Regions from separate parts of the Homo sapiens genome. Here region 2 is linked to region 1. Evidence: fine-mapped expression QTL. Tissue or cell type: whole blood. Region 1 holds a variant in brackets; the other region holds the start of a gene. All regions are shown on one strand. Distances are between the middles of the regions. Region 1 has its middle 18 kb from the start of MIR4703. Region 2 holds the start of WDFY2 (WD repeat and FYVE domain containing 2).

Region 1 (4,396 bases):
AAGGGCAAAAAGAGTAGAAAGTCCTGCCTTCAATATCTGGTGCCTCTTGGGATGCACTGGAAAAATTCTAATTGACACTGAATAGGGAGAGAGCAGCGTCTACTCCCAAACTTGTGATGCTTTCTCTAGCACACACAGAATTCTTTTGGATAGATAGGATGTGGTAGATACACTCTTAAAGTGGGTTCTTGAAAACCCATTTCTCAGAATTTGCCAGGGTTCAATGCTACATAGACAGTGGTTAAGAACTTTCCAGACCAGAGGACCATGAGATGTGTGAATCATCACTTTCCACTACCAAAGATCACACAAAATGCTGGGCATTAACCCACAAGTTCAGAGAATGCCGTTGTTGCAACTGGAGAATCCAGCTGACTTGAGTTAGGGTACAGAGACTGAGAACTGGGTGTGGGAGCATGGCCTTTAGCAGTGGGATATCAGAAAAAGGGAAACACAGTCTCTGGCTCAGGCAGTAGTGAACTTGGGGAGGAAGGTGCAGTCTGAGGTATCAAATTGCAAGGGCACAAGAATTAGATTACAATGGAAGTGAAGATCAGAAAGATTCCTGAGACTGTGGTATGCAGAGAGGGGAACTTACTGTGGAGTCCCGTGGTCTGGTCCAAGGACAATTTGAGAGCTGTTTAAGATGTTACTGATTGAAATTCCTCTCCCCTCACCCACTAAAAAACACTGCTGGAAGGTTTTCAGTTCTTTCAAAACTGTTCTGAGAGATCTCACTAGAAAGATATGGAGAATATCAGAAACCTTTAAATTTGTTTGGGGGAAAAATAATGCAAAGAAAATTGCATATTTCTATGAAATACAGTTCTAATTCTAGAGAGTAACTTCATTGTCAACGAATGTTTTGTGGTTTTTATAAACTTCCAAGTAAATAAACTCTTCTGGTATTATTTATTATTGTTGTTATTTTAGTTTTTGAGACAGAGTCTCGCTCTGTCACCCAGTCTGGAGTGCAGTGGTGCCATCTTGGCTCACTGCAACCTCTGCCTCCCAGGTTCAAGCAATCCTCCCACATCAGCCTCCCAAGTAGCTGGGATCACAGATGCATGCTGCCATGCCCAGCTAATTTTTGTATCTTTTGTAGAGACAGGGTTTCACCATGTTGCCTGGGCTGGTCTCAAACTCCTGGGCTCAAGCAATCCACCTCCCTCAGCCTCCCAAAGTGCTGGGATTATAGATATGAGCCACTGTGCCAAGCCTGTATTATTATTATATATACCTGGCTAAGGTGAGCAATATCTATTTGAGTCCAGGTCTACATTTCTGGAGTAGGCAAACCCAAGCAAACAGTTCTGTTGCAGAATTCTTTTCTAAAAGTTTTTAAAGGGCTTTTTTTTTTGTTTTGTTGGCCTAAATATGCACTTATTCATCTACATAATAACATAATAACTTGTAGACAAAATAATCACCTGGTGACTTTGTCTACAGGAAAACAAATCATGAATAGTTCTGTTTTCATGTTGACACACTCCTGATAAAGGAAAGATATTGGGGACTAGAGTGAAGGCAGCTCAGTTGATACACTAATGTCTCATTCAAAGAAAACGGAAGCTGGAAAATGTGGACTGTGACTTCATTACATGAATGAAGTATGGTAGTTTAGGGGGAAGAGGTGAGGATATTTGCCCTGTTTCTCATTGCTATAGCACACACTGGTTCTGGAATCCTAGCAAAGCTCCCTGTAGGTCACCACGCCCTCTCCGACCCACAGGAAGTCACCACCTTTTCTTTGCATCATAAATTATTTAGCAAACTATTCACAAAAGCAAAAAATTATAAACTTCCATGAAAATTATTTTGAGCTCTGAATGATTATATCCAAATCAATATTATTTTATTGTACATGATATTCTTAAAAGGTAAAGCTCAGCTGAAGCTTCAACTAGTTGATTATTTGGCATTTTGAGAAGTCAGGGAATACC[A/G]GAGACAGCCTCTTGCTTTACACCACTAACCCTGAGACAGCCGCAGCCACTTCCTGGGTGAGGTTTCCTGAGGCCACTCCTTTAGGCCCATGACTGAAACATGATGTCCTACACCCTGGAAAGGGGGCATGGCCGCACTTTGGCACATCTGCCCAATTTGAATGCTCCCGAAATGTTAACAGCTGCAGCTGGGCCTGCCAAGGGGCTGCTTTAGTGACACAAAAAGCCATTCATTATAGTTCTCAATGCAATTTGTGATGTTTTAGTTCTTCTGTTGTTACTGTTATTCTTGAAGGTTGCTTCTTGTTTGGAGCACTGGTTAAAACAGGGATGTCTTTTCCTTAGACCAAAATTATTTTGTGCACACAGACAGTAGTATATAAGTACATTAAATATTCCTTTGGCACAAATGATCTTCCAGATGGAATGAAAACACCTGAGCTATTCAATACAAACCCACATTTTTCATGTGACATACCATGTCTTATATTTTAGTGTTGTATCCTTCAGACTTCAAGTCTTCATCCTGCTTTAAATGTGAAGATTTTTCTTTAATCCAATTTCTTAATGAAACAAGAAACTGTTAGGGAGATAAAAAGTTTAGCATTTTTAAATGTATGTTCCAGGGATATTGATTTATTCACTTTGTACCCCTTGGTGATACAAATGAAAAAAAGAATATCAAGCTAACTTAGAAGTTAGCAGGGGTTTTCCCTCGTAGGATTCTGTGCAATTAATTAGGACAACAGGGAAGCCTTTCATGAAAGTTGTATCTTTGGGCTTACCCTCATGTTCTTTCATCTTAAAATAATATGTTGGTTTCTAATCCCCCTCACCCCACACACACAATGGTGTGGGTTAAAAGCCAATCAAAAAGCAAAGAGGCTTTCTAATATTCAGATTTTAATGTAACATGATGAATCATATTTCTAATTTCAAATTATAGCTTTAATTAAGAGGGGAAATGTCTTTATAAAAGTAAGAGGGGAAATGTCTTTATAAAAATTACCATCTTCAGGCCAGGCACGGTGGCCCATGCCTGTAATCCCAGCACTTTGGGAGGCCAACCGCGGGTGGATCACCAGAGGTCAGGAGTTCAAGACCAGCCTGGCCAACATGGCGAAACCCTGTCTCTACTAAAAATACAAAAAAAGTAGCTGGGCGTGGTGGCTCACGCCTGTAGTCCTGGCTACTCGGGAGGCTGAGGCACGAGAAGGAGGCACGAGAATCACTTGAACCTGGGCTCAGAGGTTGCAGTGAGCTGAGACCATGCCACTGCACTTCAGCCTGGGCAACAGAGTGAGACTCCATCTCAAAAAAAAAAAAAGGTTGCTGTCTTCAAACCACAGTTAATGTTTCGATTAATTTATTTTATTTTTATCTGTCAAAAATATTATTGAGTTCCTAATAGCATCTTAGCAATATGATATATTTTATACTTCTTTTGAGCCCAGTATAAAATGGGGATCTGTTGATGAGGGTCTTGTTAACTAGTGGGAGAAATCGTGTATGAAGACATCATTACCAATCTCTTCTTTGGCATTATAGCAGAAGCTGCGGAGCCTTCTGAAGGACTGTGGTGCTCACTTCTCCAGCTGCTGGGAGTGATGGTGACTGAGCACCTTCAGTGAAGTCCTTCTCCCAGAATTGCCCTCAGTGAAAGACTGCCACCTTGCCCAAGGTCATGCTGCCCCCATGAAAGCAGCCTGTATCAATGACTGGTCGGTTAGGGACAGGGCATAGAGGCCCCAGGCCCTTGCCTTAAGGCAGGGTAACTCAGAGGGGTCGTTCCAGCTCTGAGCACATGGGGAATCACTTGATCAGCTCAACTCCTTCCTCTGCCCAACCCTAAATCCTTCACTCCCCTATAGGTATTTACTCCAAGGGCACTCCCCATTGTGTTTCTTGCAAGCAAATCTCTGTCAGAGTCTGGTTTCTGGGAGAGACCCAGCCACAGTGGCCTTAAATACTTATATAATAGAATTTGGAGGCCCTGGTTTTGTCTTGCTCTGGCCACCATGTTAAGTTACCTCTCTCAGCTTCATTTAGAACTAAAGGTTGGACTAGATCCCCAAAGTAACTTACATCTCTGAAAGTCTATGATGTTTCACAACAAGCACTCGATCTTGATTGCTCTTCTAAAAATCATAACTATTATCAATGGAAAAGAATGTGTAATCAAAATTCAATGACTTGATGGCCGGGCATGGCAGCTCATGCCTGTAATCTCAACGCTTTGGGAGACCAAGGTGGGAGGATCACTTGAGGCCAGGAGTTCAAGACCAGCCTGGGCAACATGGTGAAACCCCCATCTATTAAAAAAAAAAAAAAAAGCCAAAAAATTCAGTAACTTGGATTCGATTACTAGTGTGTCTGGCAATACAAAATAGATTTTCCCACAAAAATCCAAATATCCCTTTGACAAAACAAGATACTACTGTAAGTCATCATAT
Region 2 (4,396 bases), 50 kb after region 1:
AATACCTCAATCCTATTTCAAGGTGCTTACAGAATTTCTGCAAAATGGGAGGTGGTAAAGAGTTGCCTTGCGTGCTTTGAGACAAGTTCTTTGCACCTGTTCTCTTATGTCTCTAGTGATCTGTGAGATCCTTGGCTACCAAACACCTACCTTAGAAATACATTTCCACAAGGCCTGTCCCTTTCTTTTCCCAGCTTTGGCATTATTTCTCTCACTTTCAGAGCCCTGCAACTCAATCACACCACCTAGACCATTACTACTCTTCGGCTAACTTAATTCTGGGATTGTTCAGTGGAGGTTATCACATAACGACTATTGATGAAAAGAATTAAACTTTGTAAAATATTTTAAGAGATTTATTCTGAGCCAAATATGAGTGACCGTGGCCCGTGACATAGCCCTTAGGAGGTCCTGAGAACATGTGCCCAAGGTGGTCGGGGTACAGCTGAGTTTTATATATCTTAAGAAGGCATGAGACATCAATCAAATACATTTAAGAAATACATTGGTTTGGTTCAGAAAAGTGGGACCACTTAAAGCGGGGGCTTCAAGGCTATAGGTAAATTTAAACGTTTTTTGGTTGACAATTGGTTGAGTTTATCTGAAGACCTGGGATCAACGGAAAGGAATGTTCAGGTTAAGGTAAAGGATTGTGGAGACCAGGTTTTATTGTGCAGAGGAATCTTTTAGATAGCAGCCTTTAGAGACAGCAGGTTGTAAAATGTTCCTTACCAGACCTAAAACGGTGCCTGGCTCTTAGTTGGTTATCTCCTGGGTGTAGGAAGGAAGGAAGGAAAACAAAGGGGAAAGGGGATATAGAATGTGGATTTTTCCCACAAGAGACTTTGCAGGGCAATTTTAAGGCATGGCAAGGAAATATAATTTGGGGTAAAACATTTTGATTTTCTTCCTTGTTACGCCAGAGTCAGACTGGAAAGTAAGTCATGACCTACATGGTCAAAACCCATCTGATGAGAATTTATGGTTTTTGTAGGCCATGACTCCCCAGACCCCTTAGATAGGAATTTGGGCAAGATAAAAAAGCAGAGCTTAGTCTTCACGATCAACCCCACATGCCAGGCCTTCTGGTAGGCACCTAACATTCAGTCAGTAACTACAGTAACTCTGTCCGTTGTGTCTGGAGCAAGCTAAAAAGGCTGGATTGCTGGGGAAATGGAAAGAAGCCAGCACTAGGGGCCTGGGTTCAAGTCTGGAGGGAAGGAGGGGTTGTTTAGCCCTAACTTTGCACTAAAGTAACCTTGGCTGTGTAATTTAGCCATCTAAGAAAACGAGGGGATAGACACCCCATATGTTCTCTGAGCTCCCTTGAAGATGTCTGTATGAAAGATTCTCTCCTTTTCATGTCCCTTCCGTGCCACTATTCCGAGCATCAGTCTGACCCTAGGAGTGGTGACGTCCTACTCAGCTGGGGGCTGCCCCTCAGTTCCCATAGAGGCAAGTCTGGGTCCTGACTTGGCCAATGGCCCTGGAGGCCGCTGAGCTCCTCAGGCCCATAGCGCAGAAAGTGGGCGATAGGTCATTCCAGGACAAGGGGGCGGAGGCTCCAAGAAACTACGACTCCCAGGAGGCCACTGGGTTCCCTCCGGCAGCCTGGGCCTGGTGCATGTTGGGAGCAGTAAGCGGCCTCCCGCCGCGCTTCATTGTTAAGACCGCTAGGCCAGGTAGCCCGCGCGCATGCCAAGTCACGTCCCAACGAGTTGGGCGGCTTTCCTTCCTGCAGGCCTCTTCTCTTTCCGGTCTTGCTGAGGCGCTCCTTTCCCCGCCCCACCTCCGCCCTCTTTTCAGGGAATTTCGAAGGGGCGTGGCGTCTGGCAAGCGCGTCCCCAGGGGTGTGTATACGCGCGTTCACGGGAGGTTAAAGAGGGAGGAGCCTAACCCTTGGGTGTGTAAGGCAGAGAGAAGACCGCGAGGAACGGAAAGCGCATGCGTCCTAGTGGTGCTGCAGCGCCCGGGGAGTCGCGGAGGGGAGGGGTGAAAATGGGCTTGCGGGACTGACGCACGCGCATTGGGATACCAGATCCCCGCCTCCTGCTCCAGGTTTCCCCTCCTCCTTCACCACCCTCCCGGAAGTGGAGCCGCCCTCGCGCCCACCAGCGGCTACCCCCTGCGGCAGGCCCCGCCCACACAGGCTCCGCCCCCCGGCGCTCCGCCCCCTCCTCTTGTAGTGGCGCCGGCTTGCATCCCAGGTCGTGGCGGTTTTGGTGCCTGAAGCAGGGAGCGCGGAGTCGTTCCCGAGAGAGGCGGCCAGGCTATGCTCGCCGGTTTCCGGCGTTCCGCTCCGGCCAGCCAGAGTCTCTGTCTCAACCTGTGTCCGTGCTCCAGCAGTCTCCTCAGCCCGGCCCCGCGGCGCGGTTGGCGGCGGCGCCCCAGGCGCGCCCCCTCCTCCGATGGCGGCGGAGATCCAGCCCAAGCCTCTGACCCGCAAGCCGATCCTGCTGCAGCGGATGGAGGGGTCCCAGGAGGTGGTGAATATGGCCGTGATCGTGCCCAAAGAGGAGGGCGTCATCAGCGTCTCCGAGGACAGGTATGGACTACTGCCATTCGGCCGCGAGGAGGGGCGGGACGGGCCGACGGCCCTCGAGCCCGCGTCAGGGGCTGTGCCTTCACGTCGGCGCGAGTGTAGACTTGCTCCCCCAAGTTTTATTGTAATGCGCATCCTGGTGGTGCCGGTGTTCAGCTGCGCGCCGCCTCCGCTGTGTGGCTCCGGGAAGCGGAGCCGGGACGGCGGCGAGCGCTCCGGCTTCACCCCGGGCTGGGTAGTGCCTGCGGGAGCCGGGTGGCCCTCGGGCTAACGGTGCGCTGGAGGGACTTTGGTCCATCCCTGAGGACAGGAGGGAAAGAGGGGAGGAGCCGCCCGGCTTTGCAGGTGTGTGCTTGGGGAACGATGCCCTGAGCCGCCTCTGCAAGATAACCAAGGGGTTTGGGGTACTCTCGTACAGCTCCCAGGGTTTCAAACGGAGAAAGCAAATGCCACTCCTTCTTCCCAGACATTCCTACTGAATCCAGATAACCCAGACATCTTAGGCTGAATTCAGTGAATATTCTAAGTTGTACCAAGAGTAAGTTTAGGCTTCTGCGTGGTGCCTTCTTTCCTTTCCCCTCCTTATCTCTTGGAGCTCGAGGAGAAGCGCGTAGAACTTGTAACGGATCACTGCTGCAAATAGCTCTTGAGTTCCTTCCCTTTGCCTGTTTCCTTTATTTTTGCTTAATTTTGCTTAATATGCAGAAGTGGAACTAGTTGTTCTGCCTTCAAATACTCTCTCTGTTTTGCGTTTTCGCTTTAACTGAATTTCCTTGAATATGCAGGAATAAAGCTGATGAAGCTAATTTCTAGAGTAATGTTGCTTGAAGATAGTATTATGATAATTTATCTGAAATTGTTTCTTTGGTAAAATCTATATAAGCATTCTTACAAAAGAACACTGTAGAGGTACATAACACGGGGATTTTACAGTAAGTAGGTTTTCTTAATATAAGTTCAAATCATGCAGAGGTAAAGTATCCTTTCTTGGTGACTCAAAATTGAGAGGCTGAGCAACAAAGTGCTCATTGCTGTCTTTATAGTCATTTCCGCACTTAGCATAGTGTGTGGCCTCAACAATTGAGCTCGATAGGTTTGTTCATGTCTTAGGTTCTTCAGTATAACTAGGATGAGTATATTAATGACATGTTCTTGTCTACATCATGCTCAATACAAATGGCGCCTGATTAATTTCCTGTGCAGATCCAATGGAAAACATTGTAAACATACACCAGTGGCAAGCATTCTGCAATGAACAGAAGAAATTCATGGCTGAAATGGAGTACATGGATGTAGGACCCTTTTGAAATTCACAGAGAAGCCTTATGAGAAAGTTTGATTTTTTCCATAAAGGCAAAATTTTATTAAAAAGACTGCTTCTGGACCTAGAAATTCTTTGGCACAGTATTGTTTTTATGGGATATATTCCATAAAATATATTGAAGGAATATATTGGTAGATGTCACTTTCCCAGTCTGTAACTACTGGAGATGGAACTGATCAATTTCTAACTGCTGTGGAAAATTCATAAGCAAATTCATGGAATCAAGAAAAGGAGAAGGGTAGTTAAACCTAAGCTGCTTTAATATTTTATTTATTTTTTTAAGACTAGTTAAGTACGGTAGTGAGAAGGGGAAGAGAGTAGAACAAGGAGTTCAATCTGTAACTGACTGTGAACAATTGAGATAATAAAACTACCTTCAGACCATCCTAAGCTCCTTTAATATTAAGGTGTTATTATAGTATTGAAACTTCTGATTCCCATTTCACCACATTTACCTTGAAGGAAACAGCTTTACTGGGGTATATTTTCAAGTGTTTGGAGACGCTGAAGTAGTGTATATTAATGAAACT

The links.
Region 2: WDFY2 starts here. The variant in region 1 is fine-mapped to the expression of WDFY2 in whole blood (TOPMed, PIP above 0.99). The same link has a PIP of 0.9 or more in blood mononuclear cells.

What each region holds. Positions count from the first base shown.
Region 1 is chr13:51,532,573-51,536,968 of GRCh38, forward strand. No RefSeq gene overlaps it. Among named protein-coding and RNA genes, the nearest start is that of MIR4703, 18 kb to the right of the region's middle. The variant A/G (reference allele first, on the strand shown) is at 1,944.
Region 2 is chr13:51,582,280-51,586,675 of GRCh38, forward strand. It overlaps WDFY2 (WD repeat and FYVE domain containing 2), which reads left to right and starts at 2,183. Exons shown (of 12, transcript NM_052950.4): 1 at 2,183-2,545. The coding sequence starts at 2,409. It also overlaps the pseudogene RNY1P6. RefSeq lists enhancers at 1,435-1,955, 1,614-1,893 and a silencer at 2,034-2,403.